Linked DNA regions of Homo sapiens. The protein of the gene in region 1 interacts with the protein of each later gene in a biochemical or structural test. Each region holds a gene or a part of one and is shown on either strand. Other genes may lie near its edges.

Region 1 (5,357 bases):
GAACTTTCACCAGGAAGTGAACCGAATGACCCAGGCTGCAGTCCCACATGGCTGCCCTTTCACCCCACTGCAGGTACCCCGGGATGGGTACTTTACCGTCTGAGATACTGGATTCCTGGAACATTGTTTCAAAGGCTTGGTGGATTTCAGCAAAGGAGGGCCGGTCAGAGGGATTCCACTGCCAACCTGGACAGATGAAACCCAAGTCAGATCATCCATGAGATCTGGCTAGCAATACGGGGCTAGCAGTTCTCAAGGAAAAGTCTAGAATGAAAGCAACATTCCAATCCTGCTAACCATCTTTTGCTGCAACAAGTCAAAACGATGAATGTCATCATGTCCTGTTATAGACATTAAGAATTTGAAAAGACGTTAGATGCTGGCAGGAATATGGATTGTAAAACCCCAGAGAGACAGTGACAGCAAGAACTGCATTTACAAATATATTTTTCCCAGTCCCGCTCTAGTAGGTGTAGAAAATTACTAAGCCAAACAGCTCACCTTCTATCTTGTTCTTTCTTCACGGTTATCAAAGTCTGAAGTAAAGAAATTCTCATGAAAATGAGACTAACATGAGGACTAAACAGACTGACAAAGCCTAGTACTGGGGACCAGGAACAGTCACTCCCATATGCGTCTGACTGGAGCATACAATGGCACAACCTTTTTTAACAGTTTGGTAAAATGTATCAAAATTTAAAACCCACACAGTTCTTGGAACCAACAGTTCAACTTTTAGAAATACCAGCCAAAGTGCCCAGAGATTCGTGTACATGAATATTTGTTTCTGCTTTGTTTATAAGGGCAAAAACCAAACAAATGTGTAAAACAACCAAATGCACATCAAAAGAGGACCGGATGAATGAGTGAAATGGAGTACTGGGCAGCTATACATAAATAAGAGGTAGGGAGAGGGAGAGATCTGAATATATGGACGTGGAAAGACATGTGTGGGAAAACAGTGTAAGAAATGGCCATATAAATACCTTATAAGATATATGAAAACATCCTGTGTGTGCATAGTACAGATAACACATATGTAATCAGTATAAAACGACCAGATAAAAATCACCTCGCAGCTGGGCGTGGTGGCTCACGCCTGTAATCGCAGCACTTTGGGAGGCCGAGGCAGGCAGATCACCTGAGGTTGGGAGTTGGAGACCAGCCTGACTAACATGGAGAAACCCCATCTCTACTAAAAATACAAAATTAGCCGGGCGTGGTGGTGCATGCCTGTAATCCCAGCTACTTGGGAGGCTGAGGCAGGAGAATCGCTTGAACCAGGGAGGTGGAGGTTGAAGTGAGCCAACATTGCGCCATTGTACTCCAGCCTGGGCGACAAGAGCGAAACTCCGTCTCAAAAAAAAAAAAAAAAAAAATCACCTCATGAGCTTAGCTACTATAGCAGAATGTCTGTGAAAGCAGGGCCCAGGAATCTGTATTTAGGAATACACCCAGGTTTGGTATCTATCAATACCATTTTTGCTTTAAAAGACAAGTCACGCACATACTATTTATCTGTAAATAAAGGTCAATAGGTAGCAAATGGCTACATTAGCTGCATCTGAAGAACTGGAATGGAGAGAGCTCATGGAAAAACTTTCAACTTTGTGTACACACTCCTGCACAGTTGAATTTCCTGGAATGCCCACATATACTCGTGAGAACAGGCTGAGGAAGGCTTACATGCTCGCATGAGTTCATAGACCTTCTCTGGGCAGCCTTCTGGGCGCTCCATGCGGTAGTCCTTCTCTAGCAGCTCATACACCTGGGACAGGTCAATTCCCGGGTAAGGGGACATGCCATAGGTAGCAATTTCCCAAAGCAATACTCCAAATGCTGAAAGAAAACCGAAAGAGAAAGGCTGTTCAAGATGTGTAGCATTTCACTACACTACATTTAAAATCAGTTACCTTTGCAGCAGACCTCAGAAGGGATGGCCCCAGCAGCAGCCCAGGCTCTGACATTTTACCAGGCTCTTTATCATCAGAAGACCAGGACAAGGCTGGGTGCGGTGGCTCACGCCTGTAATCCCAGCACTTTGGGAGGCTGAAGTGGGAGGATTATTTGAGGTCAGGAATTCAAGACCACCCTGGCCAACATGGCGAAACCCCATCTCTACTAAAAATACAAAAATTAGGGGCCGGGCACGGTGGCTCACACCTGTAATCCCAGCACTTTGGGAGGCCGAGGCGGGCGGATCACGAGGTCAGGAGATTGAGACCATCCTGGCTAACATGGTGAAACCCTGTCTCTACTAAAAATACAAAAAAATTAGCCGGGCGTGGTGGTAGATGCCTATAGTCCCAGCTACTCGGGAGGCTGAGGCAGGAGAATGGTGTGAACCCAGGAGGTGGAGCTTGCAGTGAGCCAAGATCAAGATCGCGCCACTGCACTCCAGGCTGGGTGACAGAGCGAGACTCCATCTCAAAAAAAAAAAAAAAATTTAGCCAGGTGTGGTGGTGTACGCCAGTAGTCCTGGCTACTTTGGAGGCTGAGGCAGGAGAATTGCTTGAACCCAGGAGACGGAGGTTGTAGTGAGCTGATATTGCTCCACTGCACGCCAGCCTGGGCGACAGAGCAAGACCCCGTCTCAAAAATAAAAAAAAAAAAAGGAGACCAGGACAGAACAAGACTCAGTAAACTTACCCCACAAACATGCTAGAGGAGGGCAGATGATGAGTTTCAGACCCTGTGGGGTCTTTTAGGTAATGTGACCATCTTGCTGGGATATGTGGTAGAAGGAACCTGGCGCCGGAAGTCAGCTGGCCATGTTAACTCTTAGCTCTGTGACCAACCAGCTCTGTGCCTAACCGGCCACCACTGCTTTCTGGGTGCACAAGACTATCTCCAAAGCCCCTTCTAACTCTAAACATTTCATAAAAATCTTATGAAATCTTTGAAAGTTTTGAAATCTGAGATTATTGCCTTAAAATTCCATTTCCCATTAAAGGATAAGATTCCTTAGAGAAATGGGTGATTCAGGCCTGGGGCACAGAATGAACCTGCAATAGCTTGTCATTTGAGGGCGCGGACGTCATGGAAAACTACAAAGTTAATGTCAAAATGACTAGGAGCTAATGTGAAGTTCCCACTGGCCAAAGACGAGACAATCTGAATATCAACAGGGAAAATAACCGCAGTGGACTGAAACACATCAGATATATATAAATCTGAGAGTTCATAATACCACCAATGACAGCAAAAACCTAATTGGCCACCACTGAAGGGTATTAAGAAACTAACTTGTGCACTTTGGGAGGCCAAGGTGGGCGGATCACGAAGTCCGGAGATCGAGACCATCCTGGCTAACGCAGTGAAACCCCGTCTCTACAAAAATAGAAAAAAAATTGGCCGAGTGTGGCGGCGGGCGCCTATAGTCTCAGCTACTCGGGAGGCTGAGGCAGGAGAATGACGTGAACCCGGAAGGCGGAGCTTGCAGTGAGCTGAGATCATGCCACTGCACTCCAGCCTGGGCGACAGAGTGAGACTGTCTCAAAAAAAAAAAAAAAAAAAAAAAGAAACCAACTTGTGGCAGGGCATGGTGGCTCACGCCTGTAATCCCAGCACTTTGGGAGGCCAAGGCAGGTGGACTGCCTGAGCTCAGAAGTTCAAGGCCAGCCTGGGCAACATGGTGAAACCCCATCTTTACTAAAAATACAAAAAAATTTAGCCAGGCGTGGTGGCAGGCACCTGTAATCCCAGCTACTTGGGAGGCTGAGGCAGAAGAATTGCTTGAATCTGGTAGGCGGAGGTTGCAGTGAGCCGAGATCATGCTACTGAACTCCAGCCTGTACTTTGTACCCCAGAAAAAGCAAGACTCTGGCTCCAAAAAAAAAAAAGAAAAAGTAATTTGTTATTTTAAAAACTGGTAAATAAAAACAAAGAAGCAAGAATTGACCCTGCTCTTCCTACATGAACTGTACCACTGAGTAACCACACAGATGAGGAACTGTTTCTCCTCATACAAGTTTCCACTAGTAACTTAACAGGAATGACAGAATTAGAGAATTCCTACCTGGCAATACCTAGCAAACTATTGGATCTAGGCACTGTATATCAGTAACTGCCAAAAATTACTCAAAAAAAAACCCCCACAAAAAAACGATAGCAAATCAAGCATTTTGGGGCCAGGCGTGGTGGCTCACGCCTGTAATCCCAGCACTTTGGGAGGCCGAGGTGGGTGGATCACGAAGTCAGGAGTTGGAGACCATCCTGGCCAACATGGTAAAACCCCGTCTCTACTAAAAATACAAAAATTAGCCGGGGGTGGTGGCATGCGCCTATAATCCCAGCTACTCAGGAGGCTGAGGCAGGAGAATCGCTTGAAACCAGAAGGCAGAGGTTGCAGTGAGCCAAGATCGTGCCACTGCACTCCAGCCTGGGCAACAAGAGCGAAACTCCGTCGGAAGGAGAAGGAGAAGAGAGGAGGGGAGGGAGAGGGGAGGAAAGGAAGGAAGGAAATAAATGAAGCATTTTGTATCTACTGATGGAAGGGCACACCATCTCCCCTGATCCACTCTTACTAAAAGAGAAACAGTCAAACCTGAATGTGATGAGGCCGTTCCAGATCCAGCCACCCATTACTAGGAATACTGAAGTCAGAGGAACATATTAAATCACACCATGGGAGACAATGAGCAAAACCCAGAACGTACGAAACTCTAAGGATGGTTTCTTCAATAAACAGCAAGGGAAATAAAGACATGGAGAGGGGGCTTATAGAGGAGACTTAACAGATCAGCAGATACACTGTGCACCATATTTGGACCTCAGGCCAAATACACAGTTAAAAAAAAAAAAAAAAGGGTGGCTGTGCACAGTGGCTCACACCTGTAATCCCAGCACTTTGGGAGGCCAAGGCAGGCAGATCACCTGAGGTCAGGAGTTCTAGACCAGCCTGGCCAACATGGTGAAACCCCATCTCTACTAAAAATACCAAAAATTAGCTGGGTGTGGTGGCGGGTGCCTATAATCCCAGCTACTCAAGATGCTGAGACAGGAGAATCGCTTGAACCCGGGAGGGAGAGGCTGCAATGAGCCAAGATTGCACCACTGCACTCCAGCCTGGGTGACAGAGTGAGACTCCGTCTCAAAAAAACAAAAAGAAAGGAAGAAAAGAAAGGGAAGAGCAAGAAAGAGGCAGAAAAAAACCCTCCTGTAGTCAGGAAGGACCACTTCAGTGCAGCAGCAGCCCTTACCCCAGACGTCGGACTTGATGGAGAACTTGTTGTAGGCCAGGCTCTCGGGTGCAGTCCATTTGATGGGGAACTTGGCTCCAGCATGGGCTGTGTAGGTGTCCCCTGTCATCAACCTGCTCAGGCCAAAATCAGCTACCTTCACCAAGTGGTTCTCCC
Region 2 (3,500 bases), on another chromosome or scaffold:
AAAACAAAGGAAAATTTGTTTTTCTTCTCCCTGTGTTGAGGGAGTGCTGAGAGAGTCTCCAGAGCATATTAGATAATATTATCAAGACTTTTCCTGGGTCTAGGCTGTGCCTGTTGCTGCTTCTGGAACAAGTTAGCCTAAAACAGGAAAACTTATTTCTCTTTCTTTTTAATTTTATTGTTCTTTAATTTCCCGCCTCAACCTTACTGCGAATAATATTCTGCCACTTTATTTAAATCCTGGCTTAGTTTAAGGAGAAACGTAAAGATGGGTTTCCTGGTAGAATAGGAGTAAACAGGACTGACTGTGACCTCACTGCTAATGACATGTACCTTCCTTTTACTTTCTCAAAACCGAAGATTCCCTTATTGGCATGAGGACTGTTTCAAAAGTACTTACATTTCCCACCTGCATTGTGATTGATGTGTTGAATGCCCTGACCCAGGCAGCTACAGAAACATAATTTAATTGAAGTCGGTTAAAAATTGTGCCTTTGTGGAAAGTGTGGAGAAGGACTTCAAGATGATATAAAGCAGAATAGAAAAGCTTAAAAGAATTCAATTTAGAAAAATGTAATTTTTGGTACCTCTATTAAAAATATATTTTGACTTTTTTAAAAATGAGCAATTCTTTGTGTTTAAAATGGAATGTTAGTGGGGATATTTGTGGTATGTTCTAAATGTTCTGTAGAACTGGATTTAGGTATTTGAGTAACAGCAGATATTAGAGTGCATGGTTATATATACAACAATGTTGTCAGTATTGAAATACACATTCAGTGTCTTAGACTTTTAAGAAGATTTTTGATTGACAAAAACCATTCATTGGAACATAGTCTCTTCTATACCTTGTTTCACTTAGCATCTCTTTGAGAATTTACATATCTGCATGTCCAGATCCACTCCACAGCGATTCCTGCCTAGTCTTTTATAGGATACACTAATTATGAAAATATTTACCAATAAATAAGCACTCATTAGGTTTACAGACAACTGTTGTCAGAAGTGTTTGTGGCCATATCTTTTTACTTGCACATGTAAGCATAGATGTAAAATAAAAATCGTATGACAATTTGAGTTAAAGAGTTTGTAGATTTTACATTTTCCTAGGTATTTCAAAATTTTTCCAAAATAAGTTGCCCAATTTTACAAGCCTATCTAAAGCCTCCACTAATACAACATGGTAGTAAAGAGCTGCCCTGCCCCTCTGGGCTGAAAATTGCCAAAAGACGTCCTTCCTGAGACTGACTCAGCTTTCACTAGCAGAACGCCTCCTGGATCTCCGGTCCCCCACCTCTCTCTCACCCTAGGGGTAGTGCCTTTCAGTGTACAAGCTGCACAACTGTCCTTGGTGGCCCTGCCCTCCCTTTCAGTGTGTATAAGAGTGCCCATTTCCTCCCATGTGCCATCGAAGATTTTTTATTTTTGCCGTCTTGACAGATGAAAAACAGTATCTTTTAACTTTTCAAATTAATTTAGAAGAAAACTTCTCATTCTCATCTTATAGTGCGTTAGTTTTGCAAAAGCAGATCCAGTGATTCCAGCACCTGCTATGTACCCTTAACTGCTCTAGGTGCCAGGGAAACGAGGGAACACAACAGAAAAAGTCCCTTGCCATCAGGAATGTATATTCCGACTTCACCATTTGGCTACACATCTGCATATTTGTTTTCAAGCTTGTGTGCAGTGAATTTTAAAGTCTCAATTTATATTTCTAGTTGAATATACTGTGTACTGCTCTTTGCCCTGCCATTTTGATAAGTTGATGAAAACCAGCTCTATGCCTAAGTACCCCAAAGCTTCTGTTTATAATGAGGTAAAATTGTGTCAAAAATAGGCTCTACTAAAGTTTTGCATAGAAGATTTTATGTAATTATATAATAGTTCTTCCTTGGGTCCAAAGGCTCTAAAATGACCCTTTGCCCTTTACAATTTTGGCCCTATTTCTGAGGATGTTTTTGAAGTCTGCATTTTTTGAAACCTCATAGTTTCATTGCCTGAAAATGATACAATGAAAGTACTTTGTATTAAGATATGTAAATCCATTCCTACCTCCAAAGTTTCTTTGAAAAATGCAAAAAAAAGAGTTCTTACTTCGAAATGCTTCATATTCATGAAAGCAGTTTTAATGCAAAATACTTTATTCTGTTAGCTATTAGTTCTTTGATCAATGAAAATTGTTTCTTACCTGCTGTTTCTGCAGCCTTTAATTGTAGCCCAGTGCTTATTCAATGTTTCTGTTTTAATTTGCATTTAATGAGCTCATTTTAAATGTTTCTTCGTAGTAATCTGAATGGTTTCTCTCCCTCAATTTTGTAATATTAAAGAGACTCATGTGACAGTCGGCTGATTTATGTTGCAGCTCACCTCCCTGGCTTATTTACTTCATCCTGTAGCATAGAATCTTGGTTAAAAGGAATTACAGTAATAGGATTCTTTTCCCCCAGTAATTTCCTAATTACCTAGGACTCTTAACAGATTAACTCAAATGTCTGTTTTTCACCAAATAGAAACCTTTTTTCCTTGAATGAATAGGTATTTATGATTATTATTTCAGTGTCATTTCTTTATACCATATGTATTAGATGGTGCTGGGTAGGGATGGGTACACATAGGTTGTATTTGTCTATATATTGCCTGTGGGGAAGGTACATAGAAATGACCATTTCTTCCCAATAAGTTTGTGGCCTAGTTGGGCTGATTAGGCTTATATTGGTGGTATAGATTGCACCTTCACCACCACAGAAGAAGAGTAATTAGAAAGATGTATGTACATATCAGCACACACATACATGCCTGCAACACGTGATTTTTCATGTTTCTTTTGTTCATTTGATTCTCGTTGATCTGAATGCCCTTTCTTTCTGTTGAACATCTCAAAACTACTGTTCATCACTCAAGATCCAGTTCCAATGGCACCAACTTTATGTGAAATTTTCCATGTCACCTCTTACCCTCTTTTTAGTGTGAGGCAATTAGCACCTCCTTTAGAGTCAGCCAACATTTTAGTAACTACCCTTCATCAGGTCCTTGTTCATAGTCTAGAAGGGGTACAGAAAAGTAAAGATTTACAAACCTGAAAGGTGGGTATCATAATATAGGTTTATACAAGGAAGTACTGGAAAACTCAGCCTATAGAGCTTGGAAGATCCAGCTGTTTCCCAGTGGAGCCATTCCAGTTTTCCTGCAGGACAAGTAGGAGTTAACTAGGTGAAGGCGGCCTTCTAGACAGGCATGGAGGGGAGAGAAGAGAATAGAATGAAAGGTATCTGGTGAGGCTGCAGGCACACCAGATAAGCTTTGTCAAGGAGGTAGGTTTAAAGTTGGCGATAGGGAGGAGTCACTGAACCATTATCTACAAAAGAGCATTATGAACAGGTTGTATTTTAGAAAGATGTCTGTGGCAGTACTAGAAAGTTATGAAATAGAACGTTGTAGAAAATAGTTACACTAGTGCCAGCAAGTCCAGATAAAGTGTTAATAGAGGACTTCTCATGACCT

The links.
Region 2: the proteins of ABL1 (region 1) and PRKN form a complex in vitro, tested with the Homo sapiens proteins (2 studies listed by BioGRID, with this or other methods).

The regions. Positions count from the first base shown.
Region 1 is NC_000009.12:130,874,897-130,880,253, reverse strand, and holds part of ABL1 (tyrosine-protein kinase ABL1), read right to left. Parts: coding exon 5,202-5,357; intron 1,840-5,201; coding exon 1,687-1,839; intron 187-1,686; coding exon 97-186; intron 1-96. UniProt on the Homo sapiens protein: Non-receptor tyrosine-protein kinase that plays a role in many key processes linked to cell growth and survival such as cytoskeleton remodeling in response to extracellular stimuli, cell motility and adhesion, receptor endocytosis, autophagy, DNA damage response and apoptosis.
Region 2 is NC_000006.12:162,721,267-162,724,766, reverse strand, and holds part of PRKN (E3 ubiquitin-protein ligase parkin), read left to right. Parts: intron 1-3,500. UniProt on the Homo sapiens protein: Functions within a multiprotein E3 ubiquitin ligase complex, catalyzing the covalent attachment of ubiquitin moieties onto substrate proteins. Substrates include SYT11 and VDAC1.